Regions from separate parts of the Homo sapiens genome. Here all the other regions are linked to region 2. Evidence: fine-mapped expression QTL. A gene starts in region 2. Each other region holds a variant in brackets. All regions are shown on one strand. Distances are between the middles of the regions. Region 1 overlaps LRRC8C (leucine rich repeat containing 8 VRAC subunit C). Region 2 holds the start of LRRC8C (leucine rich repeat containing 8 VRAC subunit C). Region 3 overlaps LRRC8C (leucine rich repeat containing 8 VRAC subunit C).

The links. PIP is the estimated chance that this variant, and not a neighbour inherited with it, causes the effect.
Region 1: its variant is the best candidate, but not a certain one, in a credible set for the expression of LRRC8C in lung (TOPMed, PIP 0.76).
Region 3: its variant is the best candidate, but not a certain one, in a credible set for the expression of LRRC8C in T cells (TOPMed, PIP 0.66).

Annotation. Positions count from the first base shown.
Region 1 is chr1:89,716,715-89,722,730 of GRCh38, forward strand. It overlaps LRRC8C (leucine rich repeat containing 8 VRAC subunit C), which reads left to right. Exons shown (of 3, transcript NM_032270.5): 3 at 1-2,819. Among named protein-coding and RNA genes, the nearest start is that of LRRC8C, 87 kb to the left of the region's middle. The variant C/G (reference allele first, on the strand shown) is at 2,833.
Region 2 is chr1:89,629,686-89,635,701 of GRCh38, forward strand. It overlaps LRRC8C (leucine rich repeat containing 8 VRAC subunit C), which reads left to right and starts at 3,435. Exons shown (of 3, transcript NM_032270.5): 1 at 3,435-3,637. It overlaps LRRC8C-DT (LRRC8C divergent transcript), which reads right to left and starts at 3,209. Exons shown (of 3, transcript NR_033981.1): 1 at 2,972-3,209; 2 at 2,331-2,524. RefSeq lists a silencer at 3,237-3,896 and enhancers at 4,277-4,326, 4,357-4,406.
Region 3 is chr1:89,689,982-89,695,997 of GRCh38, forward strand. The region is part of intron 2 of LRRC8C (leucine rich repeat containing 8 VRAC subunit C); the gene reads left to right. Among named protein-coding and RNA genes, the nearest start is that of LRRC8C, 60 kb to the left of the region's middle. The variant C/T (reference allele first, on the strand shown) is at 3,179.

The DNA.
Region 1 (6,016 bases), 87 kb after region 2:
TGTGACTTAACAATGAAAGAAAGTAGAAAGATGCTTTGGGTTTTCAAAATGTTGTTTTTTAAAATTGTTCTTTGGGTGAATTTACTCAGTGCTGCTTTGAGTTGTATACAGAAACAAATGTTGGGAATTGCTCCTCAGAAATGTGTTCCTAAGTTGTGTTTTCAACTTTACATCATGAGGTGAAGCATTAGGGAAAGAGATTCTTTCGATTTGTTTAATAATCTAATTATACAGACCAAAGTGCTTTACGTTTCTGCTCTATGTTAATGTTTTAGAATGGTGATTTTGCTGATTAATTTAGACCTGGAATTGAAATAATGTGCTCAGAATAATAACATGGTTATAGTTCTTGTATGATAAAGTATTCAATTTCAGAATAGTGTTGGAATCCTGAGTTTGAATAATGTGTTGTATTTAGAAACATAGCCCTATCTGTTTTAAACAAATAATTTGTTGGCCGATTGTCCATGGTTGAGCATGACAAAAATACCTCGTCGAAAGGCAAGCTTAGGTAACTGCTGGCAAAACACTGGGTGCACTATTTTTCTGGATAAAATTTATAGTTATTTTCTATATTACCCTTCAAAAGGGATCTCTTCAGGTTAAAAATCACGCTTATGCTGAAGTCTTTATCTGGTGTTAACTAAAAATCTCATATGGGTTCATAACCGAGGTCACTAATAATTCATTTTTATCACTTGTAAAAATTTGCTCAAAATTCCAAAAAAATATTGATTTGTTTTTTAGTGATTTTGCAGGCTGACCCCCAACCTAAGTTTTGATAACATCTGGTAAGTCAGTATAGTTCTGTGACTTCATGTTTTAACTAAGAAGGAAAATTCATAGATATTCCTATTAGATTTTATAAACCTTCAAAAGTCTGAAACTTAATTTTGAGTCTAAATTTTCTGACACTGGCCCCTTTTAATATTGTAAGTTTTTGTTCACTTTCTTAAGTAAAAAAAACATTTAATTACTAGTTAGCCCTTAACTGGGAAACTCAGGTAATGAACTGCTGACTTTTCTAAAGTTCTTTAACTGATCAATTCTGTATAGAGGGATATTTATCTAACCACTTTCCGTATTTTACAAGTGCTCTTTCTAAAAAGGAATAACTATTATAGCTCTATTTCCCCAATCTCTATAGGACTCATGAGAGATTGCTTGTGTAAATATAAAAGCACCATATGTGTTCTTAACTCCTATGGCTGCTTGAAGCTCATGATGAAAAAGTCTTTTTGTCAGTTTTAATTGTTAAGTACAGAACAAACAATTGTTTGGTGATGGCCTGGTTGAAAGAGAGCATATAAATATATCCCAGTGGAACTCACCAAAGAAGACCACACCTCAGAAATTATTGCATTTTCTCATTATGTGTTGGGTTTGATTTGCTTTTGTTTTTAATGCAGCTCTTTTAATATAAAGATTCTTGATACAGTGAAATCTCTTATTTCAAGTGTAAGTTATTCTTCACCCACCCCTTCCCCTGCCATTGTATTTCCCATCTGTTTCAAGGAGTTTCAACAATTTACATTGCATCGTATGCAGTAGGTACTGCTTTTTCAGAAAGACCTGGAAAACATACCTGCTATGAATATTTTGTTCAGATGTAGCCATTTACCTGGCTCTCAAGTTGTCTTTGTGGAGAGGGTCTTAGACAAAAATCTTCCTTGTATTTACTTGGGTTAAGTGAAGTCCAAATTCTTACAGTATGCTATTTCAGGATTTCTGATATTAAAAAAGAAAAAACAAAATCTTTATATCTCTTATTAACACTTCCCCCAAGAAGGGTTGTGCTGTTATTTATTTTCTATTATAAGAAAAGTTCATTCTTTAAGTAGTTTCTTTTACCTCTAATCTAATTTCATACCAAATACCTGATCAATAGAAATGATATATTTAAGCAGCAAAGATTCCTAATCCATCATTATGAAAAGTGTCAGCATACTTAGTAGTGAACAGATAAAGTCAATTTGAATATAATTCCACTTTGTTTTTAGAGACTAAATTAAGATTCAATTAACATTATCCTATGAATTCTGAATGTGATAATGTGATTCAAACAGTCAAATTTTATTAAGCTCTTAGTAACTCAGGATAGCATTCCATACTAACCTCAAGTTAGCAAAACAAATTAGTTAAACAGCTTGGTTCTTAGCAGACTGCTTAAAAGATCAAGAAAATTTTCTCATCTTTTCTTTCTACTTAGAAACATTGCAAGAAACCTTGGACAGTCTTCACCAGACCTGCCATGATTTTATAAGATTTAGGCCTCAGTGACATGCTCCTGAAAGTTTCCTGCCAGCCATCCAAACTAAGCATCCACTCATTCCATCTTCCCAAAGTCACTCACCGATAAAGGTAGCATCCTTAAGTTCATTTTTGAAAGGTGGAGGAGGATCTCCCCCTGCCCAAAGGAATTTTTTTATCAGAATACCTTGAAAGGGGGGTATATAAATTTGGAAAACTTAATTTCTTGGCTGTGTTTGATAACAGTTCCTATGCATGGTTTTTAATGTGAGGTAAATTTGTTTCTTTCTTCAGAATACCTCTCTCCACCCCCCACCTTATTCTTCCTCTTTAATGAATATTTTTATTGGAGCTCAAACTCCATGACTTACGTGCTCACTAAGTTTTCTTTTTTCCCCTTGTTTACTCTGTCTGTATGTATGTCAAAAGCTGGCAAAACCTCTAAAACTGTCAAGAAAATGCTTGAAAGTTGATTTGTCATAGTGCAAATTCATGATAAAATGTCTTAATGTTATTTGGATATGTAGTACATAGAAACAGAAAAATAAAGTCATTTTTATAACTTAAAATAGATATTTGTCC[C/G]TCTCTTACTCATTTTTAGAAATCATGTTTATCGTTTGCATTTCTTAAACTATTACTAAAGCTCCCTTTTCTCTGCAGGAAATAAGCTGCATGCATTCTTTCACTTTGTGTTGAGCTAGTTTCTGTAATTGTGACTAATTATTTCCTTCCTTAATTCACTCTACTGTATCTACCTAAGGTGCCCCTGGAGTTTCATTTGGGTAATTAGTGCCTTCATATGTAATCTGGAGTGCAATTTCTGTACGTTTGCCAGATGAGATTGTACAATGGCTGTCCAGCTCAGCTTTCAGTAAATAGTCTTATAGTAATGACTGTGGTTACTTAAAGGAATCAGCATGATCCTGCACAGCTAGGAGGCCTCCTCTAATTAACCACATTCACTCCAGGCTTAGGGAAGCCCTCTACAAGGAAACTTTATGACCACTTACGCATAAGAAATGATGGGTAATTTTCAAAGTTAAATAGTCCCTTTACACATTTTTATTAATAATAGTGTTTATTTTACTGATCATCAGCCCTCTGGAGAAGGATTGTTGAGATAAGGAAGGGTGGTGAGTGTGATGGGAGAGGCTGTGTAAGTGTGAGTAGCACAAATTAGAAGAGATCATGTGAGAGCTCTGGAGAAATTCTGGAAAGGAGCTAGGGAATGCAATAGATTAGAGACATCTGGCGATTTCAGTGCAATCTGCACGTACAGAAAAAACTGCCCACTGCCATTCTCCACTGTCCCATCTTCTAGTCCTTTCACTTACACAGAGTATTGAGATAAACTCTGAAAAATTTTAAATTGGTTATTATTGGCTAGCAACATAAGCTTTTCGTTTGGGTGAAGAAGTAAATGCATAAAAAGGAAGTTATTAAAGTTCATTTGAGACTCAGTGGAGTATTTACACGGTCAGAGCACAAGGCCCACATATTTCTGAATGTAAGTTTGAATGTCATCCTAAATTTGCAAGTAGGAAAAAAGTGAAAGCTGTTCATTAGCTACATAATTTTGTGTGAGCATAGATGTTTGAATGCAGACTATACTGTAGGTTTCACATTTAAACATATTTGAACATATTTAGGGACAAATTATTAAAATAGTTATATGATCAGGCATATCATAAGTGATAGAATATTCCCAGAGTTTGAATATTTTGCATAAAAGATACAGGGTAGGCAATGATATCAAACATCTAAACCAAATTGGCCATTCCAATTATTTTAATCCAGGGATTTTTCTGTTATAAAGTTTGAGAAGTAGAAAATGGGCTTTCTCCTTATTTTTTAATCCTTTACAGAATTAATTTTATTTCAACTCGAGTTACATCTGGACTTTTGCCATTAAAAAAATACTGCTTGGTTCAATCCTTATTAGCCTCAGGTAAAAGACATCTCAGGAAAAGTGACACAAAAGAGGCAACCTCTAAGTTTTACATTTTTTATCTCCTCCACAGTTCTTCTAATTAAAAAAAAAAAAATCAACTCCCCAGAAGTGATGCTGATATGGCAAAAAAAATATATAGCATTTCTTCACTTTGAATTGGGAAGGTTCTTGGGATTTCATTGTAATTTAACATAGACTATGTGTGACAGTTTTGTTAAAATCATACTCTAATATTCAGACAGCTTAAAAATCTTTCTTAGGATGATTTAGTCCAAGAATAATGAAAACCAATGCAAAAATGTAAAGATGTACTCCCTATGCATTTGAGCAATAAATGTCCACAAGCTTATGAAATGAGTTCTATTCATGTCTATTGAGCTGTATGGATAAATTATATCTTAGTAATTTAAATTTCTTTGTGAAAACTAGGTTGTCAAAGTTGCCACTCTTAACAAAATTCTAAAAGGCCATGTACAACAATGATATCAAAATGAAAACCAAGTTTTATTCAATGGGTGCAGGGCGTTTCTGTGAGCCTTACCAACAGGAAGTCAATTTGTTCAAAATTAGAAGACTATTTTTTCTGAACTCTCCCCCAGGTTCTAGCCTCTGGTGGTGTGACTCATAGACTTCCCTGGTAATCACACTTTGAGCCTTAACAATATCAGCATGCTAACAGATTTAGTAGTTTTATGCATTTAGAAACAAAGACAGGATGTTGACAGCCTTAAGTGATGAAGTATTTAAAATAAATTCATACTTGTAAAACTAAAAACTAGAGATTCCAATCTAAACATTTAGCTACGTAAATATTTTCTTAAGTCCACGTAACCTCTCAAAGAAACTGATTTCATGTCAAATGGGAAATACAAAGAATGTCAGATTAAACACCTGGTTTATATTAAATAAGGCTGTCATTTGTTGGGGGGCAAGGGGAGAATGGAGCTTAGAAAGCAGACTCCTGATAAGGGGTGCTTAACACACTTTCTAAAATTCAGAATGATTTGTTGCCCTTCAAATTCTACCAGCTTTAAAATAATCAAATCTGGGCCGGGCGCGGTGGCTCACGCCTGTAATCCCAGCACTTTGGGAGGCCGAGGCGGGCGGATCACGAGGTCAGGAGATCGAGACCATCCCGGCTAAAATGGTGAAACCCCGTCTCTACTAAAAAACACAAAAAATTAGCCAGGCGTAGTGGCGGGCGCCTGTAGTCCCAGCTACTTGGGAGGCTGAGGCGGAGAATGGGGTGAACCCGGGAGGCGGAGCTTGCAGTGAGCCGAGATCCCGCCACTGCACTCCAGCCTGGGCGACAGAGCGAGACTCCGTCTCAAAAAAAAAAAAATAATAATAATAATAATAATAATAATAATAATCAAATCTGAAGTACTGCAAACCAGCTAGGTAATTATTTTCAGGTAACGTTCCCTAACTCAGAAACTGCTAGTGACTATTAAGTGCTTCAGTTATAAATCTGATCAAGAACTTGCATCAAAAATGCCAGGAAGTTAACTTCAAAATCTTATGGGAAAAACTGATAATGACATTCTCCATCCCCCTCCCCATCTCCCCACCTGCCAAACTATATCCTGCGTGGATATTCTTAATAGCACAGCACTACACTATGGTAAACAACTGTAAGACAAAAGTTGCATTCTGGGTTGTTTTCAAATGTTTAGAATCATTTTTTTTCTTATATATACAGGGAGGAAAAAAATTATACAAAAATTTATCCAGGATTCTACAAATGCTTTAAGTAGGCTCAATAATAAAGGAGTTATACTTACTCTATTTATGTACTTTGATCAGACGGGGCAC
Region 2 (6,016 bases):
GGACATAAAAGTGAATCAAGATACAGCCCTGCCCTGGAGAGGCTCCCAGACTCTGTAGTGAAGAGGCATGTAAAGAGACAAATGAGAGCATGCCATGGTAAGTGCTGTGGTCACACAAGGAAGGAAGAGTTATACTTGCCTAGAACCTGTGGAGGCTTCATAGAGAAGGTGACTTTTAAATTATGCCTTCAGGCCAGGCGTGGTGGCTCATGCCTATAATCCCAGCACTTTGGGAGGCCAAGGCGGGTGGATCACCTGAGGTCAGGAGTTTGAGACCAGCCTGGCCAACATGGTGAAAACCCATCTCTACTAAAAAAAATAAATAAATACAAAAATTAGCTGGGCGTGGTGGCGGGCACCTGTAATCCCAGCTAGTCAGGAGGATGAGGCAAGGAGAATTGCTTGAACCTGGAAGGCGGAAGTTGCAGTCAGCGAGATCACACAGCATGAGACTCTGTCTCAGAAAAAATTAATTAATTACGCCTTCAAGGAACAACTCAGCCCAGCCTGAGTTTTCTTACAGCTAACAACAAAACAACAATGTGACACAATTGCTGTTACCATACAACCCACTAGAGGGGTTACAGATATTCTAAGTCTCACCACAACCCTAAAAGGTAGTTATATTCCAATAGACTGATGAGGAAACTGAAGTTCATAGCTAGAGATACAAGATTTAAGCCCAGACCTATTTCATTCCAAATCCCTTACCATAGCCCTGCATAGCCCAGAAATATCTACTTCTGCTTCTATCACCAACCTGTACATGGTTAACTTGTAATTACACAGTCTTTAGTGTGAGAACTACTAACTCTGGAAGTCCAATTAGAATGTCAAAATTTAGCCTAAAGAATTGGGTATAAAGTGAAAGGTCAAGACAGAGTCTGTGCACCCAGTTCATCTAGCTCACAGTACCCTCTCCTTCCTGGAGATGTGCTGAACTTCAAGCACATTTGCTTCAAAATGGTTTATTCTGGTTTGTGTGTATGCATGATTCCCATGAACTATGAACACCCTGAAGTCGGAGAATAAGCCTTGTACTTCTTTAAGACCCTCACTCAAGTTGACTGATTGCTAATTCTACCAGTCCTTTACAGAGAGCTTGCTAAGTGTGGATGTTAATGTGAATTAGGTGGACTGAGGTAAGATCACTAGATTTAAGGTTTACATGCTACAAAATAAGAAGAGGTGAACTAACCAGTGTAGCATAGTTTTTAGACTAGTGGCTTTCAAGCATTAATGTGCATGTGAATCACCTGCCTACACGTGAAGAACTACCCAGTTGATCCAATTAGAAGGCAGACACAAGAGTAGCCAAAAGTATTGCAATAAAGCAACTTGGGGTGGACTCAACTTGCAGGGGATTCAGATCCCAGGTTTCCAAACCTTTTTGCTATTCCTGGTTCTTTTGCTTTCAGTGAAGAGTAGTTAAGTACAATAGTAGCTCTCATTTACTGACTACTTACAAAGTGATTGGCACTGTTCTTGGTGCTTTGAGCATATTAGCTAATTCTCACAGCACCCTGTAGTACTATACCTATAGGGATGATAAGGGGATGTGGGTGGTGGGGAGGGGGCAGATAAAAAGAACAGTAAATTTCCTAAGTTTAAACTGGAAGAATAGGGATTTCATCCTGGTTCACCTGAGTACAAAGTCTAAGGTTCAATGATTCCTTGACACTGGGTAGCAAGGGAGCATTTCAGGGATGCCTAAGCTTGTGGTCAGGTGCCAACGGTACAAAGATAGAAGTATATCAGAGAGCCCTTGCAGAATAAGGCCCTCCACAGGAGGGTTGTGACCTTGGTACTTGCCTCACTGTGTTTAAATTCAGGTAAGGTAAGAGAATTGAAGAGGTAAAGCTACCTTAGAGAGTATTGCTGCATCTACCCTGGTGACTTACAAGGTACTTGAATTTTTTTTTTTCTAGCAAACTGCTAAAGTTAGCCTTTGCCTTTTTCCCAGAGACTCTCTAGGAATTTTTCCCATCTGCTGACTAGGAGGTAAGCCCGGACCTAAATTTTTGTCTTGTTGTAGGTTAATTAAGACTGGTGTTAGATTCAGCTCCTAAGGCCTAAGAGAATTTAAGGTTGTCTTCTGGGAAGGACACCCAACAGCAGCATTGGAATTGGAAAAAAAGTGTAGGATTTTGCTGAGTGAGCAGGGGGAAAGCAATGTAAAGCCCAAGAGAATATCTTTTGAACAAACGTCCTTTTCATTTTGGTTTAGAAATAGAAACGTGGTAAAAGGAGGCGACTGTTTTCTGAAGGCTTGTAGCACGAAAACAGGCCAACTGGCCAGCAACTAGTTGTCTATCAGTTTCTCTACTCACATACATCTGCCTTTTCCAGACTGCCAGCGCGGAGCACTAGTTTGACTTTGGGTGCTCTTCAAATAGCTGGCATTGATAAGGCATTCCCAGAAGACTGTGTTACTTAGTAATCTTGTCGGTACATTTTTTCACTGGGCAGAGATTTTCCAAACAGAGAGCTGCCAGCTTTCAAGACGTCAGAGTGCTTTTTCATCCTGAAATTGGGTGGGAAAATGGGGAGAAGAAAAGCACGGTTCAGATCAATCAATGAGAGAGAACCCCTCCCTCCATACTCGTTAAACAACAGGTGGTTTTGCTGTGCACCGTCAACTCCTTTATGCGGGAGCTGTAGGCGGGGCATTCCAACTGAGTCTCCCTGGAATCTGCCCCTTAGCCCGTATTGCAGGGGCGGTGCAGTTGGGGATTCCGGCCTGAAAGGAGACTTGGTTGTCAAGGGGCTCAAGGGCTTCATGATCCAAGGATATTGGGTTTTGCTTTTCTCCTTCTCCATCTTCCTCATTCTATCCCACCGTCCCCTCCCCACCCTTCTCTTAGGAGGCCTTCGCTTCTCCTGTGGAGGGGTTATCTTCATCCTGACCCTGGCCTTCGGAGGAGTTCCCAGAAGGGCTATTTTTAGTGGTGGCTGCTCCCCTCTAACTTACCCAGGGGAGGAGCTGCGGTGGCTGAGCCGACGCTGCGCGCACAGCCGCCTGTGGTTTTCCGCGCATTGTGAGGGATGAGGGGTGGAGGTGGTATTAGACGCAGCCGAATCCTCCCTCAGAGTCCGCCAGGTGGGCGTCTCAGGGGTGGGAGTGGCCGCGTCGTGAAGCGGAGAGAGGATTTCTCTCCTGGTCCTGGAGAAGGCCCCCGGCGGCCGGCGGCATCCCTCGCTGGCGAGTCCCGGGAGCGAGGTGGTCTCTGCAGGGGAGGAAGTTCCCGGGCGGCGCGGCCTGCGTCACAGCGGGGCTGGCACCGCGGAGTCGACTCGGCGGGCGGTGGCGACCCCGGGGCCGGGCGCTGGGCGGCGCTGGCTGCCGCTAGCCGGGCTGCGTGCGGGGCGGCGCTGGAGGCGGCTCCGTCCGCGGCCGGGGAGGCGGAGGGGAGGAGGGCTTGCGGGGCTGGGGCGTTAGCTGCGTCCCGGCTGGAAGCCCGCGAAGAGAAGTAGGAGGAAGGCGCCGCCGTGGCCGCGGCCGCAGTGCTCGGGCGCGACAAGCCATGAGCAGCGACCCCGCGGGCGACGCCGCCGTCCCTGGCAGCCGCTGAGCCCGACCCCCAGGCAGCTCGCCGCTCCCTAGCACCTTCTCCAGTCGACACTCTCGCGCCCGGAGGTAAGGGCGGGGGATCCGCGGAGGGATGGAGAGGGGCAGCCCGCAGAGGGCCACCCGCTCGGTCCGCTGTGCGCGCCGGACCGGGACTCGCCCCGCCTCACTCGCGTCCTTGCTTCCCCCCGGCTCTCAGACAGGCAGAATGTGGTTGCCCGCCCGGCGTGTGGTGCTGGGAACCTTCCGCTACTGCGGCTCAGGAGCCCGCCAACCCCTACCCCACCCAATCCGCGCTAGCCCGAGCGGCCGCGCGAGGATCTCAGCCTGGCGCCCAACGCCGCGCCGCAGCGGCAGGTCCTGCAGACTGGGCGCGGGGGTGGGGGGGCGGTCCGCGAGGGGAAATGCGTCCGTGGCCGGGGCGATCGTTGTTCTTTCCTACCTCGAAAATCTCTGAGACCCCGGGGCCAGTCCTTTCCGGTCTATCACCCCCCTGCCACCTCCGAACCCTTGAAGTTAGCACTTTTGGGCAGGGAAAGGAATTGGAAGGTTTCTCGAAGAAACGTGAGAGCACCGTGTGCTCACCTGCAGGACAGGAGGGAAGGGGTTCAGCTTGATCGGGCGGGCCCCAGAAGCCAGGTGTTTAGGCCAGCGGTTGAGGCCAAAACCGCTGCCTTCATCCCACGCCTAGGCTCGCTGATCTTTCCCTTTCCAGCTGGTTCCCACCAATGAGATGATTAGGGATGGAGTTAGCAACTCAGGAGCCTTAGATGTGTTCTGTGGACACGAATGCCTTTCTTTTCTCCCTCAGCCGGTTCTTCCCTCCCCAACCCCCACGCCTGCCCGGTATACAGCAAAGTCCAAACAGTTTCTTCCAAACCTCGCATCCTCCGTAGTTTTGCAACAGCCGGACACCTAGCCCGCATCCTAATGCGGATATTTCAGAGTATTACGGCTAAACTTCCCTTGGTTTCAAATTCCTTAAACATGTTAAAGCCTCAGCAAACGTTAGGAAACATTTTCAGGTTCCCATCCTCAAAGTAAAAAATAAGAACCAATCCATCTTTGTTGGAGTGCCGGTGTTTGGCACGGGGAGGCTTGAATTACCTCCATTTAAAGCAGCCTTTGAAGGAAGGAATAGGTAAAGGAAATCGCAGCCGTTTGTAAGTCACATACTTCTTTCGCGGTAGTGTGAGAAACGTAGCCTTAACCAACAGTCACATTTCCCGACAGGTATGTGATGGTTTCCCAAAGCATCGATGAGGCTTCAGCGTGGGCAGGTCATTAAGATGCCATTTAGACGAAAAAGGAGTAAAAGTGGAGTAGTCCTCTTGGTTAGCACAATGCTGCAAAATCGCCAGAGCCAATAATTTTTATACATTTATAAATTCTGTTTATTTTTAAATAATTTGTTGAAAACCCAAAACGTAATCTGAGCTGCATAAAACTCGCTCAATTCATAAACAATGTGTTGAGTGTGTAAACAAACATTAAATGTATACAGCTCTAGTCTAGGATATTTGCATTTCTTGTGACTTGCTTTAACAGGGAAGGCCAAGGCTATAATTGGTTTGCTTTACTCTGGAGTGATTAAGTTCTGTCTTGGGGTCAGTTTGTTTCCTTTGAGGGGGATGTAGGGCAGTTTTGCAAAGATGGATATTTGCCATGGTTCACATAATAGATTGGGCACAGACAGGACCCATCAACCCAACAATTGTATCAGAGATACCAAGTATATTTAACAATTTTCTTATTAATAAAATCAAGCCTTTATTAATAGTACTAATCTATTATTTCTCAGATTAAGCACTTTAATGAAATGTATTTTTAAAAGGGAATGCTTTTAGTGAAAATAATGCATTAGGAGCTGTAAGATAAATGAATGAAAATGTTGCACTTTATTTCCATGAAGTTTATCTTTTAAAAAACAATACAAAGTTAGAAATATGTTTAACTCCCAAGTGTTCAATTTTTACCAAATTGTTATGATTTTTAATACTCTATAGTATTATTAAGTTATAGTCACCTATGACATTATAATAGAGCGAGCCTAAGTTTAAAATGAAATGAGGTGGAAACTATATTTATTTTGCCAAGAATTGTGTTAATGATTTAATATGGTACATTGCTATAACATAATCTAGCTGCATGCTAGATACCTAATACACATTATCTCAGGTTCTTACAATGAACCCCTAAGGTAAATGGTGCCATCCACATTTTACATAAGAAGGAAGTTCAGAGTTTCTGATTTGGCTGAAGACTATGCAGCTAAGTTAGTGCCTGAATGAAGCCAAGCCTCCTTAGTCTTAATGATATACTTTTTTTTATTATCCAAAGCTGCTTATTTATTTTTTCTATATAAATTTGTTGTTAACTCACCATAGTGACTATATGAGGAAACAGAGATTGTAAAGTTTTCTGCCCAGCGTTTTCCATATAACAGAA
Region 3 (6,016 bases), 60 kb after region 2:
GACCTCAGCAACTAGAAAAGTTTGTTTGTAAACATGTTAGGTTTGTGATATATGTTAAACATCAACGTGGAGATATTAAGTAATCAGTTGGATGTAAAACCCAGGAGTTTGGGGTTAGTGATGGTCATTTTCAGGAGGAACGAGGTGAAGATCCAGGATCTAGGTGGAAGGATTATCCCTGATTTGGGTGGAGGAGGCATCATCCACCAGAATGGGAATGATAGCTACAGATACATTTTTATTTGGTAGGGAGACAGAAAGACAGGCGTCTGTGCCTTATGGCTTGTTGTTTCTCTGTGATGGAGAAAACAACATTTACTGAGAGGTTGTGAGGGTGAGGAATGCAGTAGGAATTGGCAATAAGGAAGGTAGTAGAGCAGGGGTCTCAAGGAGAAGGTTAGATTTGGGGTGGCTAGCTTGGGAAATAGTAGAGGAAGGTGACATAGATTAGCGGGAGCACTATCAACCTGTCTTTATTACTGTGCCATGGCTCAGAGCGCTGCTGCAGGATCTGCCTAACAAGCACACGGAATTGTTTCTCTTGTTTACACATTCCATGGCAGGATGAAAAGAGAAAGAACACAGAAAATCTTTTAGAATAAATAGTTAACTTGCAATGAAATGAATGAAAATAAGAGTGTACCTATGAAAATGTCTATAATGAGCATCATTTAGGAGATGTGCCTGCGGTAAGTTCAGGAGGGAATTCAAGCACAAGCTAAACCTCTTTTCCTGTGTGCTGGTCAGAATCATCTTCCTGCAGCACAGCCCCACAGTGTCTCTCTACAGTCCAGAAGGCTTTTGGGCTCCCCGCTGACCAGCCTTCTCAGCACCACCACTCTTACCTCGCACAATCAGTGGCTCCTGCTCAGACAGGTTAACTAACCTGGGCCCTTCACACATAGGCCTTTTTCATCTCTTCAGCCGTTAAAAAGAAATCTGATGCCAGTTGACTGGGTACAAGAAGTGTTGTCTGAGATGACAAGGTTCTGAGAAAAAGTGAGATGCCAAAAGAAATATTGCTTCAGAATATGAAGGCTGCAGGGCACAGAATTCATACGGGGTGGACTACTCAATTCAACAAACAATCCTGTGCATCAGCAATATATCAGACACTCTGTGGGGTGTTAGATGCTAAAAGAAAAACAGCACAGCCCATGCCTTCAGATTGCTAATTGTCTGAAGACCATAGAAACACATAAGCAATGTTTTCCAATATGTAAATGCCTTAATGGTGCCTCAAGAGCATCAAATATGATGTTGTCATCTCAGTCACTGGAAGTGAGGGACTCAAGAAGATAATTGAGTGAAGTCTCAAAGAATGAATATACAAAACCAAAATATATATTTTAATAAGACGCATGAAGGGGAAAACTCAGCATTAACAGAATATTTAGTGTGATCATTTTACAAAGCCCTCATGGATTGGCACAGTGACCGGAGGGCCCAGATGGCATTTTTCGGAGAGGGTGGGGTCAGGGATATTAAACATCCTGCAATCGGTGGGACATTCCCACACAGCAGAATTGTTTTATCCAGAATGCTAATAGCACATCCATGGAGTAACACTGGCAAGAGAACCTGTGCTAGAATCTGTATGTACTTTATTTAGTTCCCAGAACAAACCTGTGAAAGTAGATTAGTCCCATTTTTCAGATGAGAATTCCAAAGTGTAGAAGGTTAGATAACTTGCCCCAAAGCCAAGAGGGATGCAGCTGAGATTCCAATCTTAGGCTGATTCTCCATGAGGCGTCTGTCACCCCTGTGCACACTGCTATCAAATATTATGGAACCATCACAATTGCACAGATTGTGAGGGCAAGGTTTGGCTTATAAAACAGGATTTTCAGTGTAAAAGCAAGTACAAAATGATAAAAAGAGAAAATCGTTACAAAAAGTATCAATTTTATGAATTATAAATTAAAATTTTAAGGGGCATTCACTATATACCTGCTATTTAAAAAGAAAAATTTGCACTCTATAGTGAGCATTAACAAAACAAGAAAGAATGCATGGTACAAATTATCAAAGTAAAACTACCTAGGATCCATATAACAAATTAATGTTCCATAGGGGAAGAATTTAAGCTCTTATTTTAGCTCTGCTATGATAATCCACTAAAAATGGCTTAATGACTGATAACTTTATAAACAAAGGATTCTCTGTGAAGCTCAAGTTCCTTTCTCATTCCCAAGGCGATGTTAAAATTGTTAAAATATATTTTTATGTCTTGATTTTCCACTTGTAAATTGAAAGTGTATCATTCTTTCTGATCTTATTTACAAAGCAAGTTAACTCCTATATTGGAATACATGACAAGGCAAAATCTAAGGTGAAGTTAGAAGAACACTCTTTGATGATAAAATAGTAATCCAACAGCTTTTAGAGTAACTATTTTGTAAGTTGCTTTTTTCATGTCAAGTTAACAGTTGATATCTGTTTACTCCTAAAAGATTGTATTCATATAGGTTCAACACTACTCAGCTTGGAAAATACTGGGGGATTAAGGAGATTATTTTCTATCAAGGGGATGTTGATTCTTTCTTGCACTTATGTAAAAGGATTAGAACCAGCACTTTTGCCTTACTTGTCTGACAAATATTTATTCATTTCTGAGCAAGTAGCTCTTTTCAAGGCTGCCATGAAATAAGAGCATGTATAAAGAGCATTCCTTAGATTACATCAATCCACATAAGAACAAATATAAACTCACTATAAGCCAGGAGAGTGTAGGAGTATATGTGTCTGTCCTATTCCTGTACAGTCATACACCCTCAAGGACCAATAGTGTAAACACCCAACTTTGTGCTATAAACAACACTATTCAAAAACTCAACACATTCAACAAAATAGACCATATCCTGAAAGGTCAACACGTTGCTTCCTGGAAAAATAAGATTGCTTTAGATCTCTGCTCAGTGACTCCAGGTTATCTTATTATGACCAAATCCAAAACAGCCCATGGGCAGACCGTTACCAAATATAGAATTAGCAGTTAGAAACCAGAAACAGGAACTGGAAGATGCAAGCCCCCTGGAAGCCCTAGGGGACCTGCCTTGTGATTGTGACATAGAAAAGACATTTCCTGCTTTCTGAATTTGGAGGGGAAAAAAGAATTATTTCAATGACAAAGCCACCTACAAAAAAATCCTGGAAGATTTAACCCAATCACTAGGAG[C/T]GAAGTGGCCAGCAGGGTCACACTATCAAAAAGGTTAGGACATGTGAGTTTTTTGGTTAGAGCTGATCCCCGCTTTGATTTTTAGGGCATACTGAAATTAATTTCTACTTCTCTGATTTAGAGCCATCAATGTCAGCTCCATGACAAATGACCTTCAGGTGAAAATGCTCATAGGCAGTTCACTGGAAAGTACAGGCAATCAGAATTATAGATTCCAGAATGATATCAGAAGACTTCATTTTGACAATGTGCCCTGAATTCTTGCTTCTACTCCCCCCATGCAGTCATCTGCTGTATACTGTCTGGGATTTCTAGTAGATCTTTTTCTTTGGCCAAATTTGAATTTTATAGATAGAAGCCCAGAAATTCTTACTTAGAATCAGTAATACTGATTACATCAGAATACTGATGAAATCACAGATAGAAGTGAAGGCTTAAAATCAAGACCTCATCTCAGATATGTTCCTTTTCTTTTATCTTTTCTTCCTTTTTTTTTTTTTTTTTTTTTTTTTTTTTGAGACAGAGTCTCACTCTGTCACCCAGGCTGGAGTGCAGAGGCGCGGTCTCGGCTCACTGCAACCTCTGCCTCCCAGTTCAAGCAATTCTCATACCTCAGCCACCTGAGTAGCTGGGTTTACAAGCATGCACCACCACACCCAGCTAATTTTTGTATTTTTAGTGGAGACAGAGTTTAACCATTTTGGCCAGGTTGGTCTTGAACTCCTGGCCTAGAGTGATCCACCCACCTCAGCCTTCCAAAGTGCTGGGATTACAGGTGTGAGCTACTGCACCGGCCCAGTTGTATAAAGTTTCCATGTACCCACCTTACATCTCCGTTCTACTAGGGTCTTTGGGGAATATAAAACAAAAATTATTTAGATAGTGAAAATAATTGTAAAGAGCAACCTTTGTCATCTCTGTGGGGATGGTAGTGAATGGTGTGAAAGAAACACTATTTCAAAACCTCTGTTACATCTAGTATCAAAAATATGCCTTAGTTGGGACCTTCTTTTTATGGTGGTTTATTTGAACTGACACTTTTGATCTTCCCTAGAATTTTACTTCTTGTCATCTATCACCTTGACAATTTTATGTGGACTGAATTCCAATTTTATGTGGACTGTATACAGGGTGGTTATAGGAATACAGGAATAAATTATATTCCAGGGAGAAAAAAGTGATATGGTGTATTACAGAAGATAAGACTTGTGGGGCATGGTAACATTCTACAGATGTCCACTTGGGGGTTTCTAGCAAACAAGGACTTTCAGCTCTGCTTCATTTTGTTTCGTTTGTTTTGTTATTTTGGAGACGAGTTCTCACTCTGTTGCGCAGGCTGCTTTGAAACTCCTGGGCTCTAGTGATCTTCCTGCCTCAGCTTCCTGAGTAGCTGGGATTACAGGTGCGTGACACCATGCCCAGCTTCTTTTTTTTTTTTTTTTTTTTTTGAGATGGAGTCTCACTCTGTCACCCAGGCTGGAATGTGTGCATTGGCATGATCTCACTGCAACTCCACTTCCCGGGTTCAAGTGGTTCTCCTGCCTCAGCTTCCCTAGTAGTTGAGATTACATCCATGCACCACCACACCCAGCTAATTTTTGTATTTTTAGTAGAGACGGGCTTTCACCATGTTGGCCAGAATGGTCTCAAACTTCTGACCTCAAGTGATCCACCCGCCTCAGCCTCCCAAAGTGCTGGGAGCCCAGCCCATGCCCAGCTTTTTTGTTATAATAGCACTTCCTGTTTCTAATAAAAGTATAAAGACTTTTTTTTTTTTTTTTTGATACAGAGTCTCACTGTCGCCCAGGCTGGAGTGCAGTGGCTCAATCTTGGCTCACTGCAACCTCCACCTCCTGGGTTCAAGCAATTCACCTGCCTCAGCCTCCCGAGTAACTGGGACTACAGACGTGAGCCACCATGCCCAGCTAATTTTTGTATTTTTAGTAGAGATGGGGTTTCACCATGTTGGCCAGGCTGGTCTCAAACTCCTGACCTCAGGTGATCTGCCCCCCTCGGGCTCCCAAAGTGCTGGGATTACAGGCATGAACCACCGCGCCCGGCCCTATATAAAGGCTTTTGAACATACATAGTGACATTTTTCATCATGTAATGACAAGTTCAAAATGTTAAGTTTCCTAAGAAGTGTTTGAACTACTGGCAGTAATAGGGTCAGCTATCTTAAAATAGAATTGGCATCTCCCTACTCAAGTTATTTTAGTTCTTAAAAGCTGGTGAGATTCTTTGCACTGATATCCAAAGCTGGGGCTATGTGACCTTAAGTTCAATATGTTAACTTACTGTTTAGGATGTTGATGTTAAATGTTATAGGTGATAGATATTGGACTCAGAAAATGCTTAATGCAAGCTGAGACAGTGTTGTAGTGATATTCACTTGTAGAACACTTGTATGCATGATTATATCAGTTAGTAGTCACTTAATTTTATATTTTTAGAATTCTGCAAAAATCTTTTGTCTAATAAATAGGCCATCAACTATCTCATCATTTTACCTTGTAAGAAACCTTATATGCTCACTGGAAATAGAAAACCTGGATTTAAAAAAAATAATAATTTCAGCTAGATCAAGTTAATTTAAAGAGAAAAAACAAAATCTTTCCCCAAAACTTCAAACAGAAAGCATGGGCTCTCTCATATGCTCTTAGTATGAGTTTAGGTGAAACACATGGCTTTTCTGAGGCCCAGTTTTATAAAATGAGCAGGATAGGCATCACTTCCATTTTACAGTTTTATTGTGAAAAAAATGGTGATAAAATAGAAATGTATTGTTTTTAGTCTCTTTAGAAACTGTAGACCTCAAAATGTCTTCTCTGGGCAATT